3 separate regions of the Homo sapiens genome follow, and all the other regions are linked to region 1. The links come from fine-mapping of genetic effects on gene expression. A gene starts in region 1. Each other region holds a variant in brackets. All regions are shown on one strand. Distances are from middle to middle.

The links. PIP is the estimated chance that this variant, and not a neighbour inherited with it, causes the effect.
Region 2: its variant is the best candidate, but not a certain one, in a credible set for the expression of TBCE in tibial nerve (GTEx, PIP 0.64).
Region 3: its variant is the best candidate, but not a certain one, in a credible set for the expression of TBCE in prefrontal cortex (ROSMAP, PIP 0.59).

The regions. Positions count from the first base shown.
Region 1 is chr1:235,364,319-235,372,501 of GRCh38, reverse strand. TBCE (tubulin folding cofactor E) reads right to left here and starts at 5,075. Exons shown (of 17, transcript NM_003193.5): 1 at 4,998-5,075. It overlaps LOC124904559 (a long non-coding RNA gene), which reads left to right and starts at 5,082. Exons shown (of 2, transcript XR_007066957.1): 1 at 5,082-5,292; 2 at 5,879-6,149. RefSeq lists enhancers at 4,776-5,115, 4,655-5,368.
Region 2 is chr1:235,441,175-235,449,357 of GRCh38, reverse strand. It overlaps TBCE (tubulin folding cofactor E), which reads right to left. Exons shown (of 17, transcript NM_003193.5): 14 at 7,476-7,544; 15 at 6,447-6,506; 16 at 918-1,009; 17 at 1-688. The coding sequence ends at 596. B3GALNT2 (beta-1,3-N-acetylgalactosaminyltransferase 2) reads left to right here. Exons shown (of 12, transcript NM_152490.5): 12 at 1-2,168. Among named protein-coding and RNA genes, the nearest start is that of B3GALNT2, 59 kb to the left of the region's middle. RefSeq lists an enhancer at 5,928-7,127. The variant T/C (reference allele first, on the strand shown) is at 4,654.
Region 3 is chr1:235,428,136-235,436,318 of GRCh38, reverse strand. TBCE (tubulin folding cofactor E) reads right to left here. Exons shown (of 17, transcript NM_003193.5): 7 at 5,515-5,614; 8 at 2,039-2,115; 9 at 479-574. It also overlaps the pseudogene RPS21P1. Among named protein-coding and RNA genes, the nearest start is that of TBCE, 65 kb to the right of the region's middle. The variant T/G (reference allele first, on the strand shown) is at 4,096.

The DNA.
Region 1 (8,183 bases):
CCAATCATTTCTCTAATGCTGTTTATTTACAACTCCAAAGAAAACAGCTAAAAACAGCTTTGATTTTTAAAATATTACCTTATGAAGTATTTCCTTGGGAAAAATTCTTAAGATAGATAAATATGTTTAAGGTTCTACAAAGCCAGCCAGGAGCGGTGGCTCACGCCTGTAATCCCAACACTTTGGGAGGCCAAGGCAGGAGGATCATCTGAAGTCAGGAGTTCCAGAGCAGCCTTGCCACTATGGTGAAATCCCGTTGCAACTAAAAATACAAAAATTAGCCTGGCGAGGTGGAGTGCGTCTGTAATCCCAGCTAAATATGCACAGCAAAATTAAAAATTAAAATATAAAAATCAGCTGGGTGTGGTGGTGCACGCCTATAGGCCAATGTATTTGGGAGGCTTAGGTTGGAGGATGACCTGAGCCCAGGAGTTCGAGGCTGCAGTGAGCCCTGATCACACCACTGTACTCCAGCCTGGGCAACAGAGGGAGACCCTATTGTACAAAAAAATGAAAAAATGAAAAAAAGGGCAGGCACAGTGGCTCATGCCTGTAATCCCAGCACTTCGGGAGGCCAAGGCAGGCAGATCACCTGAGGTCAGGAGTTCGAGACCAGCCCGGCCAACATGGTGAAACCCCCACCTCTACTAAAAAAACAAAAATTAGCTGGGTATGCTGGCGGGTCCCTGTAATCCCAGCTACTTGGGAGGCTGAGGCAGGAGAATCACTTGAATCCGGGAAGTGGAGGTTGTAGTGAGCCGAGATCGTGCCATTGCACTCCAGCCTGGGTGACAAGAGCAAAACTCTGTCTCAGAAAAAAAGGTGGGGCCGGGTGCTGTAGCTCACGCCTGTAATCCTAACACTTTGGGAGGCAGAGGTGGGTGGATCAACTGAGGTTGGGAGTTTGAGACAAGCCTAACCAATATGATGAAACCCCATCTCTAATAAAAATACAAAAATTAGCCAGGCTATGGTGGCACACGCGTATAATCCCAGCTACTCAGAGGCTGAGGTGGGAGAATCACTTGAACCCGGGAGGTAGAGCTTGCAGTGAGCCAAGATCGTGTCAGTGCACTACAGCCTGGGTGACAGAGGGAGACCCTGTCTCAAAAAAAAAAAAAAAGGGAAAAAAAAAAAGACAAGAGTGGCCGGGGGCGGTGGCTCACGCCTGTAATCCCAGCAGTTTGAGAGGCTGAGGCAGGTGGATCATTTGAGGTCAGAAGTTCAAGACCAGCCTGACCAACATGGAGAAACCCCATCTCTACTAAAAATACAAAATTAGTCAGGTATGGTGGCGCATGCCTGTAATCCCAGCTACTGAGGAGGCTGAGGTGGCAGAATTGCTTGAAGCCAGGAGGCGGAGGTTGCGGTGAGCCAAGATCATGCAATTGCACTCTAGCCTGGGCAGCAAGAGCAACCACTCTGTCTCAAAAAAAAAAAAAAAAAAAAAAAAAAAAAAAAAAGCCAGGCGTGATAGCTCACACCTGTAATCCCAGCACTTTGGGAAGCTGAGGCGGGCGGATCATGAGGTCAGGAGTTCAAGACCAACCTGACCAACATGGTGAAACCCCATTTCTACTAAAAATACAAAAAAGAGCTGGGCGTGGTGGCGTGCGCCTGTAATCCCAGCTACTCAGGAGACTGAGGCAGGAGAATCGCTTGAACCCGGGAGGCGGAGGTTGCAGTGAGCCGACATCACACAATTGCACTCCAGCCTGAGCGACAGAGCAAGACTCCATCTCAAAAAAAAAAAAAAGAAAAGACAAGGAGGAAAAAAGCATAAAAATATGAAGTGTAGAAGATGGTGCAAAAACCCCAAATTCATTCAATCAACAATTATATTATGGAGTGTCTGCTAAAAGCCAGATACTATTTTAGGCAATTGGAATAAAACAGTAATGGATTTTACAGGGAAGTACAATAAGAGATCTTCCCAAAAAAAAAAAAAAAATGCCGGGTGCAGTGGCTCACGCCTGTAATCCCAGCACTTTGGGAGGCTGAGGCGGGTGAATCACAAGGTCAGCAGTTCAAGACCAACCTGGCCAAGATGGTGAAACCCCATCTCTACTAAAAATACAAAAATTAGCCAGGCATGGTGGCATGCGCCTGTAATCACAGCTAGTTGGGAGGCTGAGGCAGAGAATTGCTTGAACCCAGGAGGCAGAGGTTGCAGTGAGCCGAGAACGTACCACTGCACTCCAGCCTGGGCAACAGAGCAAGAATCCGTCTCAGAAAAAAAAAAAAAAAAAGAATACAGCAGTAAACAAAACAGAAAAATACCTGCCCTCATAAACCTTCTATGCCAGTGAGAGAAAACATAATAAACCAGATAAATGACTCTATCACATGGCATGTCATATGATGATAAGCACAAGGATAACGAGTGCAATGGAAATGTTAAAGATGGCAGTGGCTTGTCAGAGAAGGCCTTACTGAGAAGGTAAAGGTCCCCAAAATATGAGAGAGGTAAAGAACTGAGCCATGTGGACATATGAGGGAAAGGAATAGCAAGTGCAAATATCCTGAGGCTAGGATGCGCTTGAGGAGACCATACAGTAGAGCAAACAGGAGATGAGAACGACATGAGATCAGCAGTGAAGCAGGGCTAGGTCACATAGGACCTTCGATGAATAATCCACTCTGAAGACTTCGGCTTTTTTTTTTTTTTTGAGACAGAGTTTTGCCCTTGTTGCCCAGACTGGAGTGCAATGGCACAATCTCGGCTCACTGCAACCTCCGCGCCTGCCCCCAGGTTCAAGCAATTCTCCTGCCTCAGCCTCCCTAATAGCTGGGATTGCAGACACACACCACCACACCTGGGTAATTTTTTGTGTTTTTTTTTAGTAGAGACGGGGTTTCGCCACTTTGGCCAGGCTGGTCTTGAACACTTGACCTCAGGTGATCCACCAGTCTTGGCCTCCCAAAGTGCCAGGATTACAGGCTTGAGCCACTGCGCCCAGCCAGTTTTTGTTTTTTTTGTTTTTGTTGTTTTTTTTGAGACAGAGTCTTGCTCTATCGCCAGGCTGGAGTGCAGTGGCACGATCTCGGCTCACTGCATCCTCTGTCTCCCGGGTTCAAGCGATTCTTCTGCCTCAGCCTCCTGAGTAGCTGAGATTACAGGCACGCACCACCACGCCCGGCTAATTTTTGTATTTTTAGTAGAGACGGGGTTTCACCATGTTGGCCAGGATGGTCTCGACCTCTTGACCTCGTGATCCACCCACCTCGGCCTCCCAAAGTGCTGGGATTACAGGCATGAGCCACCACGCCCGGCCGACTTTGGCTTTCACTCCAGGTGAAATGTGTAGTCCTTGGAGGATTTTTGAGAGGAAAGACATAAATCTGATTTTTTTTTAAAGGATCAACCGAGATACTGTGATGCAAACAGACTAAAAGAGGAAAGAGCAGAAACTACTGCAGTAATTCAAGTACGAGACAACGTAACTTGAACAAGTGAAGGTGATAACAAGAGCCTGGGAGTGTGGACAGATTTTAAAGGTGGAGAGTCCATAGGATTTGCTGATATATATGGAAGAGATTAATCAGGGATGATACCAAAGATTTTCATCTAGACAAATATTTCAGTAGTGACAATGAATGTAAATCCAATAAACCTGCTAGTCAAAAGGCAGACTGGGCTGGGCACGGTGGCTCACACCTGTAGCCCCAGCACTTTGGGAGGCTGAAGCAGGTGGATCACCTGAAGTCAGGCCTTCAAAACCAGTCTGGCCAACATGGCGAAACCCCATCTCTACTACAAATACAAAAAAAAAAAAATTAGCTGGGCATGGTGGCACACACCTGTCATCCCAACTACTCGGGAGGCTGAGGTGGGAGATATGCTTGAACCTGGGAGGCGTGGTTGCAGTGAGCTGAGATTGGGCCACTGCACACCAGCCTTGGGCGACAGAGCAAGACTCCATATCAAAAAAAAAAAAAAAAAAAAAAAGCAGGCTGTCCACTTAGATTAAAAAAAAAACCCAGAGATATGCTGTTTACAACAGTATATAAAATATGAGCATACAGAAAAGTTAAAACTTAAGAATATGAAAAACGTTTGAAGCAAGTATCAAAACACAGCGGCCGTGGCTAAATTAATGCCAGAGAAAAGAAAAGTCTTCTCTCTTCATCTCTACCTCCACTAACTTTCTCTAACAGTTTGGCAATTTGTTAACCCCGTCTTCCTGCCAGGACTGCTTCTCTGAGGATAAGGCTGTCACACCATCATTTGGATCCACCCACAACTTAGAACAGTCCCCATTTGGTAGTAAACACCAAGTAAAAATAGTTACTTTAGGCCGGGCGCGGTGGCTCACGCCTGTAATCCCAGCAGTTTGGGAGGCCGAGGCGGGTGGATCATCTGAGATCAGGAGTTCGAGAGCAGCCTGGCCAACATGGAGAAACCCTGTCTCTACTAAAAATACAAAAATTAGCCGAGCGTGGTGGCACGCGCCTGTAATCCCAGCTACTCGGGAGGCTGAGGCAGCAGAATCGCTTGAACCCAGGAGGCGGAGGTTGCAGTAAGCCGAGATCAGAGATCCGCGCCACTGCAGTCCAGCCTGGGCGACAGAGCAAGACTGTCTCAAAAGAACAAACAGTTACTTTAAGTGCTCTCCACCTATTTAACGTTATTTCTCTGTCATCACCAATGTTAACTGATTCGGAAGGACGAGGCTGTTCCTCTAAGGTGACACCTTGTAAAAGTCGTTGGTCGCCTGTACCATTTTCACCTCTTCCAAAGTGACATGCCAATTCTCTGAGAGAAGCTTAAAATGCTAGAGATCACGTGCGGCTACTCCTAAATAAGGCCTTCCAGGAGGCGCAGGGTGGCCCCAACCCAGCCGGCTGGACCGCCTCCCAGCGCACGGAGCAGGCAACGCCCGGCTCTGGCAATCTGGGAAGATTCCAGGAAAGGAAGAAAAGGCCAAGAGCACTGCAGGGTGACGCACCGGCCAGGAATGCTCGTTCCGAAAGCTCCCCGAACCTCTGAAGCTCACCTGCCCGCGGAGACTCCAGGTGTTCCCAGCAGCAGCCCCTCCAGCCAACTGCCCAGCAGCGAAGCTTGAGGCTCTGGCCGGAAGTGCTGTAGGAAGTCCCGCCTCCACCGGAGTGAGGTACGGCTGCTGGAGCATAGACGAGAATGTCAGCGACAGTATTGGAGGCCAGAGGAGTGGTCAGCCCACCCAAGCCCCGCCTCTGGGCGGGGGCCCAAGCGATTTCCGAGTGCTGAAACCTGGGATGACAGAGCAGCCCAGGGAAAGCGCGTGTTCCAGTTTACTAGATACCACAGAAGTGAGTTACAAATCCTGTAAGAGGTTCAGTTCCATGCGTATTGAGAGTCTACCACGTAGGCAGCATGCGGTGGTCAAAGAGAAGAATATAGTGTTGATACCGCCAAAACTAAAAAAAAAAAAAAAATTACCTAGTTAAAGCATAAGGCAGAATGAAAGTAAATGCAGTGATAGAAAAAATAATAGAAAAAGCAACTATCCTAGACATGTTAATTTCTGTTGAAACCGCCTTTGCAAAATTTTGACAGTAAGAGAAATCTGACATGGTTTACTCCTATCTTGATTCTAGCCTCACAGACTGGCTGTCTTTGCTCATTCCTGGGCACAGGACAAACTAACTTTGGGAGAAATTTAGTTTATAGTTTAAATGATAATAACCCTTCCCCAAAACTGCCCTTTTAAAACTAAATGAAAGGCCACCAAGTTAGGAGAATGAGAGGGTCCTGAATTCTTCTAAGTTGTAATTGTAGTTAAATGATTACCACCCATTATTCCACAGGTCACAAATTCGCATCTTCCCCAATCATTCCTGCAGATAACATCACTGTTGTAGAACCTAAGATTGGCCTTTTGAGATGTCTTTTCAGGTTTTTGCATTTCTGACAAGTGGATGGCCCCACCCTGACTCATCAACCTGGGGATCCACGAACCAACTCAGTGCAAGAGGACAGCTTCTACTTCTTATGATTTCACCTCTGACCCAACCAGTCAGCACTCCCCATTCCCTGGCCCCGTACCTGTCAAACTATCTGAAAAACCCCCTAACCTCTGAGCCTTTGGTGAGATGGATTTGAGTAACAACTCTGTCTCCCACGTGGCATGGCCAGCCTCGCGTCAATTAAACTTTCTTTACTGCAATGCCATGGTTTCTGTCAATTAATTTTGTTTGTGCAGCAGGCAGAAAGAACCCATTGGTGGATACCACAGACTCCACAACAAGAGCAGTTTGGGTAGAGTGAGTGTTAGCATTCCAAAACCAGACTGAAGTGAGGTGAAGTGGAAAGGAAATTGAGGGAGCAAAGCCAAATGACTCTTCCAAGAAGTGACCTTCTAATTGTCATATTAAATGGACACAAACAGTCAGTATCCTGCTGGATGTCTCTACTGTTTTATACTTTGATAGTTCACTCCTTGAAACTAGAAACTAGATATTACAGTGATTGTTTTTTCTTTGGAAGAGGGGATTAAAAACCACATTGGAAATCTGATAAAAGCTATCTACCTACACACAAATTTTGCGTATGATTTCAAGGACTGATTAATCCTTTGAAGCCCATGAATAGGCCTCAAAGGAATCCATGGATCCCAAACTAAGACTCTCCTCAGCAGGGCACGGTGGCTCACACCTATAATCCCAGCATTTTGGGAGGCCGAGGCAAGCAGATCACTTGAGCTCAAGAGTTCAAAACTAGCCTGGGCAATGTGGCGAAACCCTGTCTCTAAAAAAACACAAAAATTAGCCAGGCGTGGTGGTAGGTGCCTGTAGTCCCAGCTACTCAGGACGTTGAGTTGGGAGAATCTCTTGAGCAGGGGAGACAGAGGTTGCAGTGAGCTGAGATCTCAACACTGCACTCCAACCTGGGCAATAGAGTGAGACCCTGTTTCAAAAAAGAAAAAAAGGCCAGGCGTGGTGGCTCATGCCTGTAATCCGAGTACTTTGGGAAGCTGAGGCGGGTGGATCACAAGGTCAAGAAATTGAGACCATCCTGGCCAACAGGGTGAAGCCCTGTCTCTACTAAAAATACAAAAATTAGCTGGGCATGGTGCTGTGTGCCTGTAATCACAGCTACTTGGGAGGCTAAGGCAGGAGAATCATTTGAACCTGGGAGGCGGAGGTTGCAGTGAGCCGAGATCGCGCCATGCACTCCAGCCTGGTGACACAACTAGACTACGTCTCAAAAAAAAAAAATTAGCTGGGTGGGGTGTGGTGGCACATGCCTGTAAAACCAGCTACTCAAGAGGCTAAGGCAGAAATTGCTTGAACCTAGGAGGCAGAGGCTACAGTAAGCCGAGATCGTGCTGCTTCACTCCAGCCTGGGGGACGGAGCAAGACTCCATCTGAAAATGAATACATAAATAAAGCCCTCACTTTTCCATTAGTTGGTGAGAAAAGAAAAAATAGGCCAGGCGCGGTGGCTGATGCCTGTAATCCCAACACTTTGGGAGGCCGAGGCGGGCGGATCACCAGGTCAGGAGTTCAAGACCAGCTTGGCCAATATGGTGAAACCTCGTCTCTACTAAAAATACAAAAATTAGCCAGGCATGGTGGTGCGTGCCTGTAGTCCCAACTACTTGGGAGGGTGAGCCGGGAGAATTGCTTGAACCTAGGAGGTGGAGGTTGCAGTGAGACCAGATATCACCACTACACTCCAGCCTGGGCTACAGAGTGAGACTCTATCTCAAAAAATAAAATAAAATAAAACAATGTGTAGCCAATCAATAACTTATTTTATTTTAATGTAAATTATTATTGGTAAACAACTTAGGAACTACCTCTTCTTTTTTCCTTTAAAAACCCACTTGTAGAGGCTGGGTACAGTGGCTCACGCCTGTAATCCCAGCACTTTGGAAGGCCGAGGTGGGCAGATCATGAGGTCAGGAGTTTGAGACCAGCCTGACCAACATGGTTAAATCCCGTCTTTACTAAAAATACAAAACTTAGCCGAGTGTGGTGGCATGCCCTTGTAATCCGAGCTACTTGGGAGGCTGAGGCAGGAGAATTGCTGGTACCTGGGAGGCGGAGGTTGCAGTGAGCTGAGATTACACCACTGCACTGCAGCCTAGGCAACAGAGCGAGACTCCGTCTCATAAATAAATAAATAAATAAATAAATAAATAAATAAATAAATAAAACAAAACCCATTTGCAGGCTATGCGTTGTGGCTCATGCCT
Region 2 (8,183 bases), 77 kb before region 1:
ATATGAGTACATTTCAATCAAAGCTGGTTATCACAGAAGAAGATATACTCAGCTTAGGTATAATTGTAGGGAAAAGCATGTGATTAATTTAAGTACTCTTAGAAATAGTGCAACTGAGAAGACAGATAATAGCATATTGTTATACATAGTAGAGGATGTCTCCCCAAGTTTAAGGGACATTTCCCAAAATGACCAACCAAATCATTTCTAGTAACCCTTTAAAATAGTAGTTTCAATAGAGAATTCCATTAAAACTAGTCTTATGACAGATATTAACTGTGTTCAGATTTTATTAGGCTAGCTAGTTTCTTTCTATTTAATATTTAAATCTTATCATGAAATGCAGTGATGAGCTGTAAAAATAAATATGAAATAAGATCAGAAAATCATTAGTAGGTTCAAAGCCTTTATTATTGCTATTATGTATAAGCCTAGAAATGGTCACTTCCCAACAAAAAATACATCCCTTGTTATACTTAGGACAAGTTGTAAACCCCCTTTGTTTTGACAGTAGAATTGTTCCAGTGAATCATTTATTTCCGGTGAACCCCAGACACGATAAGCAGTGTGGTCTTTAAATTTTATTAGTTGGTTGTCACCATCGCACTAATAGACAATCTCCATTTTCCACAGAATAAAACTGTAATGACTTTAGGTCATTTTCCAGCTCGATTTCTCTGCCCGGCTTCTAAAATTAGAACGAAGGTGGGGAAGGATGTGATTAAGACAGATCCGATAAAGCATGCTACACATACTCTTCCCCCACCCCGTCCCCAGGCAGTAGCTTACCCTTAAAATCAAACAAACAGACCCATGGTCTCCATTTAGAATCAAACTGTTGCTATCTAGAGACAGTTTAATGTCATAATACGAGGACTAAGCTTGACTTTGACTTTGTATTTTGCTGGGCAACTTACTTTGGGACTTTCATAGGACAACAGAAGGTCTGACACAGGAACTTTGAGAAGACGTGACAGCAATCCCTTCACCTTTTGAATTGTCATGGAGCCTATCAAAAGACAAGAAAAGTCCATTCGTTCTCTCAAATGACAGTTACCTGTAAAACTAGCTCATGTGATGAGACCACAGTATCATTGCAATGATAGCTGTATCTGTCTTTTTTTTTTTTTTTTTTTTGAGACTGACTTACTTACTTACTTAAGTAAGTCTTGCTCTGTCGCCCAGGCTGGAGTGCAATGGTGTAATCTCGGCTCACTGCAACCTCCGCTTCCCGGGTTCAAACAATTCTCCTGCCTCAGCCTCCTGAGTAGCTGGTGCCCATCACCACACCCAGCTAACTTTTGTATTTTTAGTAGAGACGGGGTTTCACCATGTTGGCCAGGCTGGTCTTGAACTCCTGACCTCGTGATCCGCCCGCCCTGGCCCCCCAAAGTGCTGGGATTACAAGCATGAGCCCAGCGCCTGGCTGTATCTTTCATTTTACCCAAGTCACTTTACCCAAGTAAGTAATTAGGGGAAAGCCTGAGTCTTGTACCACCTGTTCATTTGGGGAACTGTGGGAAACGGAGCCAACGGACCTAAGTGCCCTTTGACAGTGAGTTTCATACCATTTCAGTAGTGTATTTCTTTCTTAATCTGAATAAACCAGAATGATACTCTCAGCACAGAAGAATAAAGGGAGCGAGTCATTAACGTTTTCTTTTTAAACCTTTATGATGACTTCCTTATGAATTACTGAACGAACACTGGAATGGGACTCAGGTATCCTGAGGACATCTCTCAACTCTGGCCTTAGTTCCCCCTCTGTAAAATTAGGGTGCCAACTAAATGATCTACAAGGTCCCTTCCAGCGCCGCCATTCTGTAATTACATCATGTGTAACTGTATTAAACATACACAAGTGACTGCCAGGCATGGGAATGTAACTTCCGAGTAAATGCTTTGGTTTGTTCAGAATACACTATGAACTTCTTTCCAAAGACGGGTTGTGGTAAATAGTGGATATTTTGATTATAAGAAATAGAGTTTCCTTGAAGCTTTAGCTGGAGATACAGCAATAGTGTGGTGTTCCTACAAATATCACAGTGTATTCAAACATATTTTTCTATCAAAAATCATTTTTGTAAAAGCTGTGTGTTTTTATCCAACTTGTGATAATAAATGTTCTTTATTTTAGAATAAAAACTGGCCTTTTTGTATGTATTGAATACAGTTAATAGAATTTATAATTTTAATTAACAATTTGCTCTTTCATGTGTGAATATGTGATAGTCTAGTCCTTTCAAAAGATTGAGACGGACTGGCTTTCATTGTTTGAAGGCTGGTGAGAGAAGGGGTTACCTGCTGCACACCAGTGGGGAGTGACATACTCCTAACACATGCCAGAAACAAAAAGTTTGGTCATAAAACAGTTCTAATAAGAAATCTGCCTGGCCTGCTCACACCTGTAACCCCAGCACTTTGGGAGGCAGAGGGATCAGAGCCCAGGAATTTGAGACCAGCCTGGGCAACATGAGGATACCCCATCTCTACAAAAAATAAAAAATTAGCCAAGCATAGCGATGTACGCCTCTAGTCCCAGCTACTTGGGAGGATCACTTGAGCCCAGGAGGTCAAGGCTACAGTGAGCCATGATCGCGCCACTGTACTCCATCCAGCCTGGGTAACAAAGTGAGAACCTGTCTCAAAAAAAAAAAAAAAACCTGCCTACTCATACCGGTTCTATAGAAGAAAGTAGCAATCTCTATGTAATAAATAGCATTACCATTTTTAATATAGTAACATGACTGTCTTAACATTCAGAAAATATGGAAATAGCTGATTATTTCTTTTTACCTGCCTATGACCAGTGTTAAAAATTTGAGAGGTATACCTCTAGGCCTTTTTTTTTCTGTGTTCATATAAGGATGTATAGGTTTTAAGCCAGGCGCAGTGGCTCACGCCTGTAATCCCAACACTTTGGGAGGCCGAGGCGGGCGGATCATCTGAGGTCAGGAGTTTGAGACCAGCCTGGCCAACATGGAGAAACCCCGTCTCTACTAAAAATACAAAAATTAGCCAGGCATGGTGGCGGGCACCTGTTATCCCAGCTACTTGGGAAGCTGAGGCCGGGAGAGTTGCTTGAACCCGGAAGGCAGAGTTTGCAGTGAGCCGAGATCATGCCACTGCACTCTAGCCTGGGTGACAGAATGAGACTCCGTCTCAAAAAAAAAAGGATGTATAGGTTTTATAATATATTGACGTACTACATTTGTATTTCTTTATGACATGATGGTATAGCTTTTCATGCCAATTCCATGCCATGTCCTCTAGCCATACACTGCCCAGTATGGCAGCCACATGTGGTACTGAGCACCTGGAAAGCGGCGAGTATGACTGAAGAACTCAATTTATTTTATTTTAATGAATTTAAATAGCCACATGTGGTTATTGCAGCCACACTGGACAGCGCAGCTCTAGACTGCTTCACTCTCCTCGGTGACACACGACAGTGCCTTGTGTGCTGTGTGGTTCCACCAGAGCTTATTCACCATTCCTCCGCTGGCAAGTACTTAGATTCTTACTATCTTTACCATTACAAATGCTGCAAGATACAATGCTTGGTCAGAGCATATGTGTATTTTTAACTTTTTATAGTAGTTCCCACATGACTTTAAAAAAGGGTATACTGCTTTTTCATGCCAGCCAGTATTATTTTAATTTTGCTAATCTAATGGATAAAAAAAAAGATATTGCAGTTTTGTTTTGTTTTGTTTTAATTTTAGACAGGGCCTCACTCTGTCACCCAGGCCAGATTGCAGTGGCTCAATCACAGCTCACTGCAGCCTCAACTTCCCAGGCTCAAGTGATCCTCCCACCTCAGCCGCCCAAGCAGCTGGGACTACAGGCATGCACCACCACACCCAGCTAATTTTTGTATTTATTTATTTTTGTAGAGACGGGGTTTCACCATGTTGCTCAGGCTGGTCTCGAACTCCTGGGCTCAAGCAATTTGCCCACCTTGGCCTCCCAAAGTGCTAGGATTACAGGTGTGAGCCACCATGCCTGGCTATTACTTTTCTGTTTAGAAGACATTTACCTATGTTAGTGGTTAAATATTCACAGCATGTGGCATAAGAATTAGTATTAAGAACCTTTGTATGAGTGAGTGAGTGAGTGCACATTTGAGAAACAGAAAAGCAAATAAAAAAGGGGAAAAAAAGGAACCCTTGTAATCTGCTGGCTTACTGCTGAATTTATAGAATATAGGACTCAGATTCTGAATAGTTTAAAGTAGTAATTCTTACATATAATTTCTATGGATAGTCGAATCTCTGCTAGCTACCCAAAGATTAATAAAAACAGCATGAATGCAGTGGGTGTTCCCAAAATGGCTAACTGAATCTCAGAAGACCTGGGATACCAGTCAGGTGTACAGTGTGGAAGTAGAGAAGGGTAAGGCGGCACTGTCACCCCCAGCCAAGGGCTGCATTCAGGCATATGCCCAGACGGCAGGCCTTGGCAGGTCTACCTCAGTGCCTTCCAGAGAAAGACTGAAAAGGAAAGCTTAACGAAACAGGTCTAATGACAATATTCTTGAGCAAATACTCTATAGTGGTAACATTCCCATGAATTGATTTGATGTATCTGCAAAGGCAAAAGGAAACACGCAAAGACATCGAAGGCCAAAAACATTCACAGAAAGTCCTGGCC[T/C]GCCAGGCATGGTGGCTCACACCTATAACCCCAGCACTTTGGGAGGTGATGACAGGAGAACTGCTTGAGCTCAGGAGTTTGAGGCCAGCCTTAGCAACATAGCGAGGCTTCATCTCTACTAAAAATCAAAAAAATTAGCGGGGTGTGGTGGTTCGTGCCTATAGTCCCAGCTACTCAGGAGGCTGAGGTAGGAGGATCACTTGAGCCCGGGATCAAGGTGATGGAGCCTGCAGTGAGCTGAGATGGCACCACTGCACTCCAGCGTGAGTGACAGCCAGACCCCATCTGAAAAAAATATATCAAAAATAAAACAGTCCTGGCCCTCTTTGACTAGTCTGTCTCCACCAGGGCCTTTACTGTCTGTCTAAGTTTGAAAACAGAATAATGAAGGGGGAAATCACTAATTCTAACCCATTATATAGCAGTAGCCAAATTACATATTACAGGAGTAGAAACTGGATTGTGAATAAATAAAAATGGAGACGTTGTGGTAAATTAAATGGATGGTTATCAATCAGAAAGGTACTTCTTTGAACACAACTAAGGCCTTCTATAAGCAATACCATGATAAGCTTGCTTTATCTGATAGAAACTAATTTAAAAATCAATGTGAATTTACTGCACTGATGGGCAAAGAAACCCAGTGTACTAGAGTCATTAAGCTGATGTGTATTTCATTTATTTAAATCCTCACTGCTCTAAATTATTTATATTTTAGCATTTAGCTATGAATCAAGTTTAATCTTGAGAATTCACAGTATCATGGCATACTCAAAAATAGACTATAATTTCATTTTTCTTTTGAGTGAAAGTTTAAGGTAAGTTATGTTGATCTACTTTATTGACACAAGCATATTTATTTTCCAAATAAAAGTAATTCAGTTCCAGTACCACAATTTTTTTAAGTTCTAAGGTAGCTTTCTCAAAGAAAACCATTTCAGGGTGTCCATTAAAAGAGCATCTGCGAATTGTTTTTGCAGGGACTCCTAATCAGTCAGGAGAAGTAGAATGTAAGCAAAGTCACAAACCTCCCGTAAGAATTTGGTTCACCAGGACACAGCTCCTCTCTTATGAAGGGATGAGAAGCAGACCCCAAACCCAGTGTCACAGTCTCCCTGGAAACAGCAGCAGGCTTGGGGAATGCTTCCAAAAGGCTATGCCATTCAAGGTCTCAGGTTTTTTGGTTAAAAATACAACTTAGGCCAACTGCAGTGGCTCATGCCTGTAATTAATTCCAACACTGGGAGGCTGAGGCAGGAGGATGGCTTTGAGCTCAGGAATTCGAGACCAGCCTGGGCAACATGGCGAAAACCCATCTCTACAAAAAATACAAAAATTAGCTGGGCGTTGGTGGCTCGCACGTGTAGTCCCAGCTACGTGGAGGCTGAGGCTGGAGAATTGCTTGGGCCCAGGAAGCAGAGGCTGCCGTGAGCTGAGTTGGTGCCACTGCATTCCAACCTGGGTGACAGAGTGAGGCCCTGTCTCAAAAAAAATTGTGTGTGTGTGTGTATATATATATGTGTGTGTGTGTGTGTGTGTAATTATATGCAGGGGCTTCCAATTTTAACAGAACTGCTTTCAGCTGATAAAGTTAGGGGAGACCTGAACTTTTGGGGGCATGGGGGAGTGATATTAGCATGATTGATTGTATTTTAGAATATAAAAGACTAATGAAAACCTGTAAGTTCTGAGGTCCACACTTTGAGACATGAGTTAAAGGTTTTAATTTTAGCTGACTCATACCTAGGCCGATGATTCAGAGTTTAAGGAAAAGACAGGCTGGTTCTTCTTACCCGGCAGTTGTTTCTCCAGGACTTTCTGATCAAGTTGATGAGGGTATTTTATCTTCAGTGCTTTAAGAGAAACAAAGAAAAAGACTAATTGATATCTACTATTATATGGATTTAAATTATCCACACACATCAACAGATGGCCAAATGATAGAGGTATTCAGTGCAAATTGGCAGGTCTAATCAATGTTTAAAATTCTTTCTATTAATCCTTCCATGGATTGCTAACAACAACAGAAATAGCTGGACAATACTTTCCCTTTTCCCCACTTAGTACTTCTTTCCTTACAGCTTGGCTAGGTTTTCAAGTCATAAATTCACAAATCACAATTTGGTTCACAACTCCAATACCTCCCACATTTATAACACTATTAAATGAGTTTAAAACATAGGAGTTACAAAAATGTATAAGAATTTAAACATGTTTTAAAGAATTCATTTCTTTGACAGGGCGCGGTAGCTCATGCCGCTAATCCTAGCACTTTGGGAGGCCGAGGCGGGTGGATCTCCTGAGGTCAGGAGTTTGAGACCAGCCTGGCCAACATGGTGAAACCCCATCTCTACTAAAAATACAAAATTAACTGGGTGTGGTGGCGCATGCCTGTAATCCCAGCTACTCGGGAGGCTAAGGCACGAAAATCGCTTGAACCCGGGAGGCGGAGGTTGCGGTGAGCCAAGATCGTGCCACTGCACTCCAGTCTGGGCAACAAGAGCAAAACTCCGTCTCGATTAAAAAAAATTAGCCGGGCATGGTTGTGTATGCCTGTAGTCCCAGCTACTCCAGAGGCTGAGGCAGGAGAATCGCTTAGAACCTGGGAGGCGGAGGTTGCAATGAGCTGAGATCACACCACTGCACTCCAGCCTGGGAGACAGAGGGAGACTCTGTCTCAAAAAAAAAAAAAAAAATTTTCATTTAAAACTCAAGGCATTTACTTAGGTACTTAAGAGGTACACACTTAAGAGAAACACACTAACTGTTTCAGCACCTAAGCACTCAAATACAAATAAACTATTTGAATCTGAGATTCTTACTTAGTAGCTGGTTTTTCAGCATAAGTGGTTGCTGTGTTTTGAGTTCCCAATCTTCAGGTGCACCATATTCTGTTTAAGAAAGCAAAAGAGATGAATGATAAACCAAAGGCCACTATAAGTAAAAACAAAACAAACAAACAAACAAAGGATAGGTAAGCGTCCAGAGAGCCTGTGCCTTTCCCAGGACACATGGAGCTGCCTTTATTCAGTGTGATTTTTAGGAGTGATGGACAACGACCACTTCCAAGGGCAGAATCTTCTATCTACCCAGAGCTGCAGACTCTGTAGCTTATCTAGCTCATTGTTAATGACCAGTGAAACTCAACAAAAGACAACAAATGAAAAGCAACATGTTTACATGTGTATTACATCATTGTTCCTTAGGTGTCCTGACTCAAAACTAGCAAGAGAAGACTGCCTTCAAATACTTCAAATGTTTTCCCCGAGTGTCACCTTTGGTAACAGTTCTCTTTCTGCGCTGACAGAAACCTGGTGCCACCTGAGACACGATCCACAGGACACTTCTCACGTTTCCACCAGACCGTGCAGTGCCAGGCTGGGTGCTCAGTACCATACTGCAAACCAGTTCCTAGGCCTGGACCACAGCCTCCACAGGAGAGGAGGAAAGCAGTACTTTTTTCCTGCTCTAGGCCAAACAGTGACAACATTTCTCTAAATCCCCCCATCTATCTGTGCTTTTGTCTTCTA
Region 3 (8,183 bases), 64 kb before region 1:
TCGGTTTGTAAATTTTTTTCCTACACCCTGGGTTTTTAATCCCATGTAAAATACTTAGAAACCATAAAGTCCAACTTAGGACATGCAAAGTGAACTCTTTATCCTGTATTCTAATGACTCCATAGTCACCTAATGGTTCTTGAGTACCTACTGCTATGTCAGGTGCTAAATGCGTCTCAGAGGAAAGAGACACGGTCTACTGCCCGGAGTTTAATGAATGAAGACTTTCCGCATTATCACCAGGGTCAAATTATTCATTCTTCAAATTATCTGGTACAGACATAGTCCACATTATACAGGGTTCACAAGTAAATTTTCTAAATGAATTCAAATGAAAATTTCCCAAAGGGAATTACTCAATTTAGAAATTCCATCATTGTTACCACGTTTCTATTGAGAAAGCATACATAGCATATGAAAACTGCTTCACTAAGAATTGACTGAACACTATTGTATCAGGCATTTAGGGGCAAATTACCTGGGCAGGTGGGCTATCAGATACAGCTGATTTTCATCAATTAATTGATTAGAGGAAAGATCTAATAACTTGACTGTCTGGAGAACATCTGTTGGCCTGTATGGAAAATAAAATTTTTTCACCGTGAATTTATCTCTTAATTGTTTTCAAAGATACAGCCTTAAAATCCCTGCATTTGGTGCGATGGAGGGCTGGGGATAAGAAGCAAGTAAATATGACTGTAAAGGGGCAACCTGAGTGGTCCCTGTGGTGATGCACATATTCCTGCCGGTATCAGTGTCACACCTAGCCTGTGATCCTATATCATAGTTTTGCAACTTGTTACCAATGGGGGAACCTGGGTCATGGGTACAAGTGATCTCTGTGTATCATTTCTTATAAAACTTCATGTGAATATATGATTATCTCAAAATAAAAAAATTTAATTTAAAAAACCTGCAGGCCAGGCACGGTGGCTCACACCTGTAATCCCAGCACTTCGGGAGGCCGAGGCGGGTGGATCATCTGAGGTCAGGAGTTCAAGACCAGCCGGGCCAACATGGTGAAACCCCGTCTCTACTAAAAATACAAAAATTAGCCAGGCATGGTGGCACGTGCCTGTAGTCCCAGCTACATGGGAGGCTGAGGCAGGAGAATCACTTGAACCAGGGAGGTGGAGGTTGCAGTGAGCCGAGATGGTGCCATTGCACTCTAGCCTGGGTGACAAGAATGAAACTCTATCTCAAAAAAAAAACAAAACAAAAAACCTGCATTTGCCTACATAATGAAACCCTTCTGTAAACGAAAATCTTTAAGATTCTGAATCCTTTAATTCAGAATCTGTTGTAAATTTTCCCACAGTTAGGTTAATTTTACATAGTAATTTAATATTATTAATTTAAAAAGGAGATGAGGCAACAATATATTTCAGAGAACAAAGTTTTACATGTACTTTGGTACAATGACCTTAAACAGATGATGCTAATGAAAAATACATTATTTAATCCTTATAGCATATCCTACAGAACTTCCATTTAGAAACAGCAAGTTGGCCAGGCACAGTGGCTCACAAGGTCAGGAGTTCGAGACCAGCCTGGCCAAGATGGTGAAACCCCGTAAAAGATGGTGAAACCCCGTCTCTACTAAAAATAAAGAAAATTAGCCGGGCATGGTGGCAGGCACCTATAATCCCAGCTACTCGGGAGGCTGAGGCAGAAGAATCGCTTGAACTCAGGAGGCGGAGGTTACAGTGAGCCAAGATCGCCACTGCACTCCAGCCTGGGCGACAGAGTGAGACTCTGTCTCAAAAAAAGAAAAAGAAAAAAAAGAAACAGCAAGTTAATACACTGATGCAAAACTAATATAACTCATGTCTTCACAAATATTTAATTCTGATGAGTTTCCTTTGATTAGAACCAATTAGTGAAATTCTAATTTGTGAAGGCAATGAATAATAAGCATTTTTCCTAATTCTTGTTTGCAAATCCTTCTAAAAATTAAGGTTAGATATAATTGAGACCATTTATTTACTCAGAATGATGATTAAATGGGGATAGATGCATTTAAGTAAGTGCTAGTTACCTTTCGGAAATGAAAATGTTGTTAGACTCAAGGTAGAGTTCCTCCAGGCCTGGGCACCCCGCGACACACCGCAGCACCTGGAAGAGAAACTCGGTTCAGGCTCAGGCGGCCTCTGCTGGCTGTTTCTTCCCGGGTGTTCATAGGAACCACCACAAGAATTCAGCTCAGTTACTGTTTCAGCAAACAAGTGCCTCACGGACAGTTCATAAGACTGTTTCAGGCCTGGAATAGTGGTGGGGGGTGATAAATAAAATGTTAAGGGGGTGCATTTTAATGCTGTGGGAGCACACACTGTGGGCACTTTGAGGCCTTGGAGGTACGTGTCAATGCATGGTTTAGGTAAAGCAGCTACGAGGTGGAACAGGAGATACTAACTGCACATATTATTATTTGATAGAATTTGCTTAACCAAAATAAGTAAATTGATGTTACACACCTTTCCTCAATTCTAAATGCCAATCTGGGTTTGTAAAGGATATGCTAATTTTTCATATCCTTTCATAAATTTCTCAACAATTATTTCTTCTTTCATTATTTTTTTAATTATACATTTTTTAAAGTTTTCATTATATATTTATGACAAATATTCTACATCCATGATTCTCTCCAATCAAAAGTTCTTTGAGATCGGGCACAGTGAGTTCATGCCTGTAATCCCAGCACTTTGGGAGGCCAAGGCAGGTGGATCACTTGAGGTCAGGAGTTGGAGACCAGCCTGGCCAACATGATGAAACCCATTACCACTAAAAATACAAAAATGGCCGGGTATGGTTGCACACGCCTGTAATCCCAGCACTTTGGGAGGCTGAGGCAGACAGAATGCTTGAGGTCGGGAGTTTGAGAACAGCCTGGCCAACGTGGTGAAAACCCATCTCTACTAAAAATACAAAAAATTAGCCAGGCGTGGTAGTGCACGTCTGTAATCCCAGCTACTTGGGAGGCTGACGCAGGAGAATCATTTTGGCCCAGGAGGCAGAGGTTGCAGTGAGCCAATATCACACCACTGCACTCCAGCCTAGGCAACAGAGCAAGACTCCATCTCAAAAACCAAATAGTTGAGATGACGCCCTTGGCCATGGCCAATTAGAGAATGGAATCATCTGACTCACCCATCCTGCAAACAGTCCTGCAGATAGCACAGGTTTTAAACTGGCTGTTAAACCTGCCCGTGACCTCACTGGCCTTGGCCACGTTCATCCGCATGGATGTGTGGTCCTTGGCACTGATGATGCAGTTGCTGGTGGAGCATTTCTGCAGCACGCACAGATCCACGAACTTGCTGGCGTCTTTCTGCATGTCGAGACCGTGCCTGCTGCCACCACACTGCGCATGAGCCTAATTTTTTTTTTTTACAAAAAAAAAAATTACAAAAAATTATTATATATTATATAATTATGTATAATAATATATAATATATATATAGCATCTACAGGATCTCTCTATGTTGCCTAGGTGGGTCTTGAACTCCTGGCCTCAAGTGATTCTCCTGCCTGGGCCTCTCAAAGTGCTGGCTGGAATTATAGGCGAGAGCCACCATGACCAGCCTCACCAACTATTTCTAAATTTTCTCACTGGAACTTTACTGCCATCTCCACCACTTCAATTTCTGTGTGCCCTTCCTAGTTTATTTGGAGGGTGAGATGCGTCTTGCTCTGTCACCCAGGCTGGAGTGCAAAGGTGCAATCCTAGCTCACTGCAGCCTCAAACTCCTGGGCTCAAGTGATCCTCCCACCTCAGCCTCCCAAAGCGCTGGGATTGCAGGTGTGAGCCCCAGTGCCAGTGTCTGGCCCCTTCTTGTCTTCCAGCTACATCTACACCTTGAGAGGGAGTAAGCGCCTCACAGAGGAGGGGCCCTAGGAAAGAGGCTCCATGGCCACGGGCATATTAAGGGCACAAGGGGCCCACCTGTCTCTCACTGAGTGGCCTCTGTGGCACTTCCTGGGTGAACATGGCTGGGAATGTATTTCTACACCCTTGGTTTGAAAGTGGAATGCCCAAGCTGGGCACAGTGGCTCACGCCTGTAATCCCAGCATTTTGGGAGGCTGAGACAGGCAGA[T/G]CATTTGAGGTCAGGAGTTCAAGACCATCCTGGCCAACATGGTGAAACCCTGTCCCTACTAAAAATACAAAAATAAGCTGGGCATGGTGGCAAGCGCCTGTAATCCCAGCTACTTTGGAGGCTGAGGCTGGAGAATTGCTTGAACCCAGGAGACGGAGGTTGCAGTGAGCCGAGATCATGCCACTGCACTCCAACTTGGGCAACAGAGCGAGACTCTGTCTCAAGAAAAATAAATAAATAAAAATGAAAGTGGGCTGGGCACGGTGGCTCACGCCTGTAATCCCAGGACTTTAGCAGGCCGAGGTGGGTGGATCACCTGAAGTCAGGAGTTCGAGACCAGCCTGACCAACATGGAGAAACTCTGTCTCTACTAAAGATACAAAATTAGCTGGGCATGGTGGTACATGCCTGTAATCCCAGCTACCTGAGAGGCTGACGCGGAAGAATCACTTGAACCTGGGAGGCGGAGGTTGCAGTGAGCCGAGATTGCGCCACTGCACTCCACCTTGGGCAACAGAGTGAGACTCTGTCTCAAGAAAAATAAATAAATAAAAATGAAAGTGGGCTGGGCACGGTGGCTTACACCTCTAATCCCAGCACTTTGGGAGGCCGAGGCGGGCAAATCACTTGAGGTCAGGAGTTCGAGACCAGCCTGACCAACATGGAGAAACCATGTCTCTACTAAAAATGCAAAATTAGCTGGGTGTGATGGCACATGCCTGTAATCCCAGCTACTTGGGAGGCTGAGGTGGGAGAATCGCTTGAACCTGGGAGGCAAAGGTTGCAGTGAGCCAAGGTTGCACCATTGCACTCTAGCCTGGGCAACAAGAGTAAAACTCCGTCTCAAAAAAAAAAAAAAAGAAAGTGGAATGCTCTGGGTGTGTGAAGTCAGTACACCTCAGACAGGAAATAGTACTGCCAGATATAAGTCCCAAATGCTGCTGTGCCAAGGACCCACAAGTCTACTTTTGAGCCCGGCTGTATAAAATGAACAGTGGATTCCAAGAGCCGAACTTCTAACAAGAAAAGTATGTGAGAACCTTTCTGCTGCTTGGCTTCTGTTCTAAAAAAAACTAACAGGAAAACTCAGGAAGCTAGTCAATAGCCAACACTACGGCTTTTTGAAGCTCAGCACATACTGGTTCATACCATAACGGAGCGCCACTGTTTATAAAGGCACCAGAACAAGTCAAAATGAGCTGAGATAGGACATGGATTTCCAGATGCAAAACTCAACTATGATGCTCTTTTAACTCGTTTTTATAAGGCACTTTAATGAATCTTGTTATCTATTAATAGATACTGGGATGATTTAAATGAAGCCACAGTTGTACTATTAAACTGTACTAACAATTCTCTATTAAACCAAACATTTTTAATTGCTTATTAATGTGTAATAAAACAAAGAAATATGATTACCTCAGCCCACGTTATTCCTGTTTGATTGAGGACTAAAACCTTCAGTACAGAAAGCGTTCCAGTTAATACTGAACCGGAGGGAAATTTTAGTTTATTTTCACTGTGTAGAAAAAAAAGATACAATGTACTTATTTCTATACAGTAAACCCAACTGAAATAGTTGTTGAAAGCAACAATCTGGGTTTTAATCTAAGGGGTTTGATTTGTTTCAATCTTAAAATGGAATTATATTTTAAAAATCACTTTTTTAATGATTCAAGTGAATCAAGACTACCTAATTTTTAACATTTACAACATACAACTTTTTGGTATCAGCTGTGTAAAGATGCTTTCACAGGATTAGGGCACCTGTATGCGGCTGTAGGCTTCCTAAACCCAAAACTCAGGCATTTGCAAGGTGAGCTTCCAGCTTCACAAGATATGGCTCTGGATACTGCAAAACAAAGTCCCGTTCTCCAGAGTCTTACTGATACACTGAATCATGGGCTAGAATTTTGCTTCTCTAAACATAGAGTCTGCCCTTTGGCTATGAGGATGGATGAAATTATTGCCCCTTAAATTATTTCTCAAAACCCTAATCTCAGAAAGTATTCAATCCTGACAGTCACTTTGAAAGACGATACTATTAAAAAACACAAGCCCGTATTTCCAGAAGATGAGACACCATGGGTTGAATTGCCCCCGTTTGCTCTATTTGGGAGCACAACTCATTCAGGCCTGTCTACCGGCTTTACTGTACACTCACATGTCTATGCAAAAATGGTTCAAGAATGAAAGGGGAAACCTGTGCTGGGCACGGTAGCTCACGCCTGTAATCCCAGCACTTTGGGAGGCCAAGGCAGATGGATCACCTGAGGTCAGGAGTTCAAGACTAGCCTGGCCAACATGATGAAACCCCGTCTCTACTAAAAATATAAAAATTAGCCGGGTGTGGTGGTAGGCACCTCTAGTCCCAGCTACTTGGGAGGCTGAGGCAGGAGAATCACTTGAATCTGGGAGGCGAAGGTTGCAGTGAGCCAAGATCATACCACTGTACTCCAGCCTGGGCAACAGAGTGAGACTCTGCCTCAAAAAAAAAAAAATGGAGGAAGCCTGGCTAAGCCCTTGGAAAGTTAGGTTCTGAGATTAAAACAAATTAAATATTCAGGAAGGCCTAGAAAAGTGTGACATTAGTAAAATAGGTAGATTAATGAAAAATCCTTATCAAAACAGAATTAAACAGTATCCCAATGAAATTACTCATTCCTACAGCAATTAAACGCTAGAAGTTTTCAAATAAACAAGCAGTTTTAATAATATCACCTCTCCTCTCCTACTCCCCAATTAAATATCACCTCCCCCAACCTTCCATCTTTACGGTCAGGCTAAAAATAAGATCTTGCAGTTCAATGAAAATCTAACTCATCCCCACCTGGTAAAAGTTAAAACACATTCCTTATTCATGAATCACCTCATGTGACCGTTTGCAAGGCTATAATAATCAATGTGCCCTTAAAGATTAAAGTGTCCTTAAAGAGGCGGGACATGGTGGCTCACACCTGTAATTCCAGCACTTTGGGAGGCCGAGGTGGGTGGAAAACCTGAGGTCAGGAGTTCAAGAACAGCCTGGCCAACATGGCGAAACCCTGCATCTACTAAAAATACAAAAAGTAGCTGGCAGTGGTGGTGGGCACCCATAGTCCCAGCTACTCAGGAGACTGAGGCAGGAGAATCCCTTGAACCCGGGAAGGGGAAGCTGCAGTGAGCCGAGATCGCGCCATTGCACTCCAGCCTGGGCGACAAGAGTGAGACTCTGTCTCAAAAAAAAAAAAAAAAAAAATATATATATATATATACACACATACATATATACATACATACATAAGGCTGGGCACAGTGGCTCACACTGTAATCCCAGCACTTTGGGAGGCTGATGTGGGCGGATCACAAGGTCAAGAGATTGAGACTATCCTAGCCAACATAGTGAAACCCCGTCTCTAGTAAAAACACAAAAATTAGTTGGGCGTGGTGGCTCGTGCCTGTAGTCCCAGCTACTCAGGAGGCTGAGGCAGCAGAATCGCTCAAACCCGGGAGGCAGAGGTTGCAGTGAGCCAAGATCACGCCACTGCACTCCAGCCTGGCGACAGGGCGAGACACTGTCTCAAATAAATAAATAAATAAATAAATAAATAAAGTGTCCTTAAAGATTAAATGTGTCCTTAAAGTTAAAGTTAGATAAATTCAAGTAAACCAAAATCTGGCTGTATAAAAATGTCTACTAGCGAAGCAGCTGCGTTGTCTGGGGTATACACCTGGTATTCCTCTTCTCCCACCAGGAAAATTTAGGACACAGACACATGAGGAGTTTAGGAGCAGAGGTTTAAAAGGCAAGAGAAAGAAGATGGAAAACAGCTCTCTCTCTAGTAAGAGAGAGGGGACTTCCAAGAAGAAAAAGGCAAGCTGGCAGCAGATGCAGATTTTTTGTTTGTTTGTTTGTTTTCTGAGATGGAGTCTCGCTCTGTCGCCCAGGCTGGAGTGCAGTGGCACAATCTCGGCTCACTGCAAGCTCCGCCTCCCAGGTTCATGCCATTCTCCTGCCTCAGCCTCCCGAGGAGCTGGGACTACAGGTGCCCACCACCACGCCCGGCTAATTTTTTGTATTTTTAGTAGAGATGGGGTTTCACTTTGTT